2 separate regions of the Homo sapiens genome follow, and region 1 is reported to be linked to region 2. The links are microRNA targets in miRTarBase. Many come from high-throughput screens and were not tested one by one. Region 2 holds a microRNA gene; the other region holds the end of a gene's coding sequence.

Evidence for each region. The annotated mature microRNA hsa-miR-708-3p reads CAACUAGACUGUGAGCUUCUAG and lies in region 2 at 2,965-2,986, opposite strand. An mRNA with a match to its seed (bases 2 to 7 or 8) in the 3' UTR can be bound and repressed. Matches are read on the target gene's strand: a 7mer-m8 pairs with bases 2 to 8, a 7mer-A1 pairs with bases 2 to 7 and ends in A, and an 8mer does both.
Region 1: the mRNA of SMC5 is a reported target of hsa-miR-708-3p. Seed matches in the 3' UTR shown: 7mer-m8 at 1,932-1,938.

Annotation. Positions count from the first base shown.
Region 1 is chr9:70,351,411-70,355,812 of GRCh38, forward strand. SMC5 (structural maintenance of chromosomes 5) reads left to right here. Exons shown (of 25, transcript NM_015110.4): 25 at 781-3,463. The coding sequence ends at 921. Among named protein-coding and RNA genes, the nearest start is that of KLF9-DT, 61 kb to the right of the region's middle.
Region 2 is chr11:79,399,068-79,403,469 of GRCh38, forward strand. It overlaps MIR708 (microRNA 708), which reads right to left and starts at 3,042; the gene lies at 2,955-3,042. The region is part of intron 1 of TENM4 (teneurin transmembrane protein 4); the gene reads right to left.

The DNA of each region.
Region 1 (4,402 bases), not on the chromosome of region 2:
GTCATCTGTCTTCTTTTTTTCAGTAGATAGTCTTGTGGAATAGTCACATCTGTTAATACCCTACTGCTTGCCAAATACCTTAGTCTACAAATGTCCCTGTTACACACTTTTCAGGATACCAGGCTATCAAAGAAGTTGCTTGAGAAGTGTTTATAAATAAAAAGTGAAAGTATCTACCCTAGGAAAATTGTGGAGGACATACTCTTTTCCAAGGTCTGCCAAGGAAGTTGAATAATCCCAGTTATCCTGTGAATCTAGAGGGCTGGATTATTCCTTATTTTGATTGTTCCTTAGGCCAGGCTACAGGTATGCTAATTTAGGTAAGGATTACAGTCTGGCAAGGTTTATATTGAGGTGTTTAAGAGCTTCTTAAGAGTCTTATTGGCTGGGGACAGTGGCTCACACCTGTAATCTCAGCACTTTGGGAAGCCAAGGCGGGCAGATCACCTGAGGTCAGGAGTTCGAGACCAGCCTGGCCAACATGGTGAAACCCTGTCTGTACTAAAAATACAAAAAGTTAGCTGGGCCTGATGGTGCATGCCTGTAATCCCAGCTACTCTGGAGGCTGGCTGAGGCACGAGAATCTCTTGAATCTGGGTGGTGGAGGTTGCACTGAGCTGAGATCGCACCTCTGTACTCCGGCCTGAGCAGCAGAGTGGGAAAAAAAAAGTTTTATTAATATTGCAAATAAAATAATACATTTGACTGTACACATGTAAGGTTGGAAAACTATACTTCTCAGTATATAGCTTATATGACAATTTGTTTTAATACTTACAGCTCCTGCAAAATCTTCCTTATTCTGAAAAGATGACAGTTTTGTTTGTCTACAATGGCCCTCATATGCTGGAACCAAACACATGGAATTTAAAGGCTTTCCAAAGGCGGCGGCGCCGTATTACATTCACTCAACCTTCTTAATAAAAGTAAAGAGAGGGAACTTGGGAATTTTTTTTGTTAAATTCTGTTTATAAGTATGGCTCAACTGAATAAAAGGAGATTCACTAAAACGAAAAGCAGTTATTTTTGGAAACCTGCTTTTAAATACAAATAGGTTGATAATGGAAACTATAATGACCTTTCCAAAATAGCAGCTGGTAGTAAAAGTTAAGTCTTCTTCAGTCTTGGTTGAACTTGAGTTCTTGGCACTCTGACCATGAGTCATTCAGTTCTCATGTTAAAATGTACTTAATATTACAAATCAAAGGTACAGTGGAAGAAGGGTTAATCACAAGAAGTTACTTATATGGTAGCCCTGAGCTTTAATTGCAGAGTAACTTTAATTACTTTTAGAGCCTAAAGATGACTCTAGAGCCTAAGTCCTAGTTTCTCCCAATGTTATATTTAATTTTAAAAAATTGATATGAAAATGTCTAATGTATAGTAATAATTTATGACAGATCTAGTCATTTCTTCCTATTAAAAAAGATTACCTTATCTCCAGTAGGAAATGGAATTTTATGGGCCTTTAAAAGAAAGTTTTATGAAACTTGATGCTATAATTTTATTGGTATTTCAAGGGGAAAAAAGCACTGGGGTTCAAAAATGGTAGCAGAACTGCTTTGAAATGCTGCAAGGTGGCCACTAGATGATGCAAAATACAACCAAAAGATTGACTGAGAATAAAATTAGGTGACAAGGGTTTTTAAAGAATAACCTTTTAAAGTGTGGGGGCAGGGGTTGCTTTTTTTTATTTTATTTAAAGTCAATTATATTTTACATCTTACATTTCTAAAAGCATTTTATAATTATTTTTAGTAAGATTTTTCTTAAAATTTCATATACTGGTTTCTACAATTTATATTTGAAATTTCTCAGTGTTATGTAAAGAGTGATGGAAAAGCATTGATTTCTTTAAAACCGTAATGTTTTTAGAACTTAAGCCTATAGGGCCTTTCTTACAATGTTGATGTACCCATTATCTTAGAAAATCTAGTTTAAACTGTTTTCTTTCACCGCAAAAGAATTAAATGGGAAAATCATTTGTTTATCTCTAAGTTATACTAATTAGTAGAACCAAACAAATTATCTTCTTTTAAAAAATAAATCTTATAGGAAAATAGACAGTCCAAAGTCATGTCTTTGAACAGTGGATTGGATCTGTGCCAGTAATGACAAAATTATTTTTTTGACTTGCTTGCCTGAATAAATTGAAGAATTGCTTTCAGTTTGGGTTTTGTATATTCTTAAGTAGCCATTGAAATTTATATTCTTAACTAGGTCAAAAAATAATGAGCCATAAGTTTATGTCCTCTCACTTAGACATTTTCTCTTTAAAAAGGTATTTTCTTCTTTATAAACATTTTAAAAGAGCCTTCCCTTCTTAAACTAACTCCAGTGCATGAAGTGTGAAAATATTTTAAAATGACATTTTTACTAATATGAGCAAGTCATGTAAACATTGAAGAACTTGGTAACATATTAGTAAATGGATATTACCAAATGTTTTCATCGTTAATTACTTTGCGTTCCACCAAAATATCTTTACTAAAATGTGCTTGGTGTAGTTTGTTTATTGTCTAAATTAGTACCAGTCATCTTATTTCTGCAAAATGAGTATCAATGTGAAAAAGACACGTGAAGATTAAGCATGTTTGAAAATAAAATGGTCAATTACATTTCAATTTACATAGGCCAACAACTGTTCCATACTTTGTTTGTAAACATTTAATTTCTCTACTGGACAAAATTAATATTTGGCTTTACATTGAATTTTGAGCTGTGAAGAATAAATTATGTATCATTTTAGCATATTAAACAGTAGTAAGTCTAGCACATAGTCTCAGCCACTTAAAACAAAAGTTTTTTTGTTTGTTTGTTTGTTTGTTTTTTTGAGATGGAGTCTCACTCTGTTGCCCAGGCTGGAGTGCAGTGGCGTGATCTCGGCTTACTGCAACCTCCGCCTCCCGGGTTCAAGCGATTCTCCTGCCTCAGCCTCCCAAGTAACTGGGACAACAGGCGCGTCCCACCACACCCAGCTAATTTTTTATACTTTTAGTAGAGATGGGGTTTCAGCATATTGGCCAGGCTGGTCTCGAACTCCTGACCTTGTGATCCACCCGCCTCGGCCTCCCAAAGTGCTGGGATTATAGGCGTGAGCCCCTGCACCCGGCCAAAAGTTGATTTTTAATTACATAAAAATCGTAAAAACTTCTAGTAAAAACTTGATTTGGTGAATACAGTTATATTTAAAAACCTTAAGGTGACAAGCATTTTCTATGCCTAAATCTTCATTGGTTTGCCTGGAAAGAGTCTCTGTTAAAAGATTTTCCATATTCAAAGTAAAAGGAAAGATTTCTTGCTTTCTAATTGTCTTTTGGACACATGCCTATTTTCTTTGAGGTATAAACCTTTAGATGTGAAAAATGTAATTTCATTCTGCTATTGTGTGTGCTTGTGTGTGTGTAATTGAAAAAACTGGGAAATCCTGCTTTGTTGGTAATAAATCAATATTTTTATATTCTTTTGGTGTATGTTATTTTAAGTGAGAACTATTTTTTATACTCTGAACCTTATTAAGAGTCATTTTGGTTTTCAGATTTACTAAAAAAAGGTCTGTTAAGTACCCACATTTACAAAATAGTGTTCAGCAGTCTATTAGTGTTCGAAAGGGTAGAAAATTTAGTCCCTTTTCTGCCTGCAGTGAAATCACAGTCTAATAGAAGCAATAAACACTCATGAAAAAAAGGTTTAAACCATTTAAAGAAGCCAAGTTACAAGGCCGAGTATTCATCAGAGAGGCTGCAACATAGGTTAACTGTTTTTATGTTTAAACACTATGTTTGCTAACATGCCCAATAGCCAATTTTCACTTATTACTCCTTACATTAAGCTACTATATAAAGTAATTTTTTTAAAATATATTTTTGAGTCAGGCAGACTTTCACTTACAAGTTACTTGATAGTCTCATCATTGGTGAAATGAGAATCATACCTAATTCACAGAGTTGTTGAGAGGAGCAAATGAGATCGGGGCCTATTGGGACACATAGCATTATAGTGAGTACATTATTAATGTTTATGTATCTTCTCATATTTTAAATCTTGAAAAATGTACTGTGAATTTTATACACCCAGGTCTGAAAATTCTAAATAATGTGAAAGTAGAGATTATTTTGTAGTCTATTGATAAATAGTTCAAAGGATGCCAATACCTACAGACTGAGCATTGGGGAGTGCTGATAGTTATTTTTATAGATCTTGTTACCTTGTTAAATTCAAATATAAGTTAGTCAGATGAGCTTCTTTAAAGATATTCCATCTCATTATTTTATATTGATATATAATTTGGAAATTTTATAATTAATAGAATTTGCACATTTGGGAGATATGACTATGTTGACAATTTGGGCTTTTTATTTCCACCAAAAAGGTTAGGTATGGGGGATTTTATTTATTTTTT
Region 2 (4,402 bases):
GGAGATGTCACTGTAACTACCCTGTATCATGACTTTCCATAGGCAGAAACATAAAGACAGCCCCAGATCTCACCCACCCAAATGATTCCCAGCATTTTTTGTGCCATTTCTCACTCTGATTAGCGAGCAATTTCCTGAAGGCAAGCCAGTCCACCAGGCACAGAATATGAGTTCCAACTCTTTCAATGAGCAGAAATCTACTGGTTCCATATTCTTCTCTGGGGAAGGAGAATCAGCTGAAATGAGTAGTTGTTTCCCATATTTACATGGGTATTTTCTTCTTATTTGAAATGCTTATGGACAAGGACTAATCTGTTAGGAAGGCAGAGAAAGATTGTGGTCCCTGCTACCATAGCCAAGGAAGAAGAACTGGGGAGTGGGAGAGCAATAAGTTTTTATCAGAAAAATTTAAAACTGATTGTTTGGAATTTGAGAGGAGACCCTAAAATTAGAGAGGAACTTGGAGGCGATCTTGTCCAAGATGCTACTCAAAGCAAGGCTCCCTTATAATACAGCCTGGCTAATTAACAGGCATCGAGTCTTGCTTGAATACATTTGTTTATTAATTTGATAACTTGATGGATCTTAGTTCTGGTGGAAACACATACATTCACATCAAAAAAAAAGAGAGAAACAGAAACATGTGGAATCTTGGAAACAGACGTAGAGTCAAATTTGGCTCCTCTACTTACACAGATTGAATTACTATGACCTTAGGCAAGATATTCAAACCCTCTGAGTTCCTTCTCTGTAAAGAATGGGTTATAAAACCTTCCTTGTCGGTGTTGTTGTGCGGATTAAGTGGAATCATGTATATAAAGTGCCCAGCAGAGTTGGCTGGCACACAACCAACACTCAATAAATGGTAATTATTATTATCTCTTTAGCCCAAACTCCCACCCAAGGCAGAAATCCTTCTTTAAACAACCCTGACAAACCAGAGAGCTATCAAGTCTCTGCTAGAATAAATATTTGTTGATTGATTTGGTAATCAGTTGATTCTAAATACCTGGGAGACACATAAACACACACCACACACACACACACACACACACACACACACACACACACACACACACCCTCCAGGATTATTTCTCCAAGTCTTGTGTGAGGGAGATGCTTTATCAACAAGACCATATCCCCATATCCATCCTGTTGGGTGATATTCAATGGTTAAATTTGCAGCCTGGAGCCAGAATCCAGTCACTGCAACTTTCTGCTCCATGGTCCGCTTCCTTAACCATTTTTTTTTTTTTTAACCACACAGACTCCTTTGAAGACCTTCCCAGACAATGCACATACCTGGAACAAATTGCCTACAACTTCAGGAGTGTCACAGACTTTGTGAAGGGCTTTGTGCCTTCGGGGCTAAACTCCTCTATGCTGGCACATCCCCAAACAAGGCTCTGAAATTGCAAACACTGCTCCTTTCTCCTGACAGGCATCTCTCTTGCCCTCTCCTCCCTGTGCTCTTCCTGGAACTTCAGAAGAGGGATGCAGTGCTGGACTTAAGCTCTGCAATCAGTGCAAATTCCAGTTTCCCCATCTAATGCATCTTTAAGCCTCAGTTTCCTTGCTTACAAAATGGCAATTGTAATAGTGCCTGTGTCACAGAGCTGCTGTGAGGGCTGAGGGGACAGTGCGTGTTGATGCATAGCACAGTGCCTGCACAGAGGAAACACACAATTGAAGTTTGCAATTGTCACTTCTATTCTTATGTTATCTGTTCCCTTGCTCTCCTCCTCCCACAGACATTGCAGTTTGCCATCGTTCCACTTTAAAAGAAGCTCCAGAAGGTACACTCAGCTCCAGAGAACTGGAGATAGCCCTGCATGCCATGACCTAGGTGTCAGGCAGGGGGCACTCTGCCCAAGTCAGACTTGGGACAGCAGGTGGCATATGCCAGACTTGGCCCTGAGAAGCTCTGATTGGGATTTATAAGGCCTATGATTACTAAAAAACAGAAAAATTCAAACTACCGAGTGAAAAATCAGTGGTACAGTAGATTCAAAAGCTTAATAAACAAAGGATCTTGGGGACAGGAAATAATACAAGGGATCCATGGAGGTATAACATTTGAGAATTCTGGTGTCCTTCACCTTTTTGTTTTCCTGCCTCCTTCCCTCCCTCTCTTCCTTTAAAGAACAAGCATGTATTGAGCAGTTATGTATGCAAGCCTTGTGCTAGGCACTGGAAATGAGAGATGAATAACCATGATTCCTGCCCTCTCGGAGCTCACAGACTAATGGAAGAGCCGATTTACAGAAAGAACACAGTGCAACAAGTTCCCCAACAGGGTAAGCACACGTGCTGAGGCTGTCTAACCCCGGAGCCTCAGACTCTTTGAGATGCAAAGGAATAAACAATAATTCCCAGAAAAGGTGACACTCAAATGGAGACCTGTCAATCATTTTTATTAGGCATTTTTGCTGGTTACAAAAGTAATAAATACTTTTTGCAGGAGATTTGGAAAGCACAAGGGTGTCAGAAAAAGAAAACGTCAATCATTATTTTACCATTAGAGGCAACCACTAATACATTCTGAAGCATTTCTCTTTCCATCTATGTACTTAACATCAATGAGTTCATCATGTCTATACATTTGATAGGCTCCCCAGTTTACTTAACATTGAAACATAAGCACTTTTCCATCAAGCTCAGTCCAAATGAGTGACCCCTGGATCTTTGATCTGGGGGACCAAGTCCAGGAGCCTGGAAGCCAGGGCTGGCCCAGAGGAGATATGACAAGCTGGGTTTTGGTGAGCAGGTTGAGTTGGCAGTGCTGTGGAGCATTCCACCCGGGGAGGAACACTGAAGATGCTGGAGAGCTGGGTGTGGCACTCAGGAGACAATTCAGGCCTAGAGGGTCCTCAGGTGGTGGTTGACGCCATGGGGATGGATGAGATCCCTCAGGGAGGGTGTGCAGGGTGAGAAGAGAGATGACTAGGGTAAGGTCCCTGCCCTCTAGAAGCTCACAGTCTAGTTGTGTTCATGTGCAAGTCATTTACCCCCAGCTAGATTGTAAGCTCCTTGAGGGCAGTTACCATTTCACACACAGCAGTCCCTCGCCAACCATGGGGGTTAGGTTTCTGAAAACCCCTGGGGCAGGAGAAGTCAGGCTTCAGGAATTTAGGACCTTATTGGGGAAAAAATAGGGTTAGGGGAATGAAGTCACCAGTGAACTTGTAAAATTATTATATTTTTACATAATGAGAAATGACAATGACAACATATTCAAAACACTGAATATCAGTGACACAAATTATCAACATATTCTTCAATTAACAACATTTTACAACTTATTTTCATGTACCATCTATCCCTTTAGTAGAGCTTGCCCCTTCACAGCTACAACAATATGCTTGTAAATTCACTTTTGCATTGCTGGAAAAAATACACTTGCTAAGAGTCCTTTTCTTATGTGTGGTTTCCCATCCAATTATTCAATGCATTTTGGTTTTTATAACTCCAGGCTACTGACACCTGTCTCTTGGTCCCACCCACAAGTGCAAGCACACACCTACATCCTAACAGGTAGGAGTGTGTTTCTGAGGTCTGATCCACCCCCTCCCACTCTCCTCTCTTCCCCAATTTTACTACAAACACCTCTCCTCTGCAGCCATTTCACCTACTTCCCTCTTCCCCAACCTCTGGGCAGATTTCATCAGTTCCCCCATAGGAATGAGCAAAGACTCCTGACCTTGGGATTCTCCAAGGCTTCTGACAAAGTATGCAAACATGAAGTTGTCAATATTAGAATTTGGTGTCTTTCTTTGGTAGACACTAGCATATCATTCACTCACTAGCTCATAGTAGGTACTCAATAAATTCTTGTTGAACTGAGCAATTTCCAAAGTAAAGGATGTGGACTTTTTTTTCTCTTTCCCCATTCACTGCTCCAAATGAATATTAAACCTTCACACAACATAAATATTGAAATATTTGTAGGCACATTTTATTTTCCCTTCTGGCAGGTCATGATGACAAGAGGCAGCTAATAGATGCAATCTATCTGCATTCACGAAGGCAGTTTTGAGTTCCACATGACATGCTGTCAATAGAGTCAAAAGATATGGCCCTTTAGTGAAGGAATTCTCCATATTTTCCAGCTCAGACCACTTGGATAAAGGAAAACACCTACTAACCAACGATTCTCCCATGCACATTTATGACAAAAAGGTTGTCGCCATGACTAAATGGGAGGACTAGCACTGTTTTTCATGAGATATCAACAAAACCATGTCTTTTAAATGAAACAATAATCAGTTACATTTATACAGCACTTTACATTTTACAAATGCTTTCAGGTACATTTTTATCTCACTTTTTCTTCACAGCAACTCTGCGAGGTAGTCAGAGAAGGCACTGATAGTTCCATTTTGCAGATGAAGAAACTGAGGCT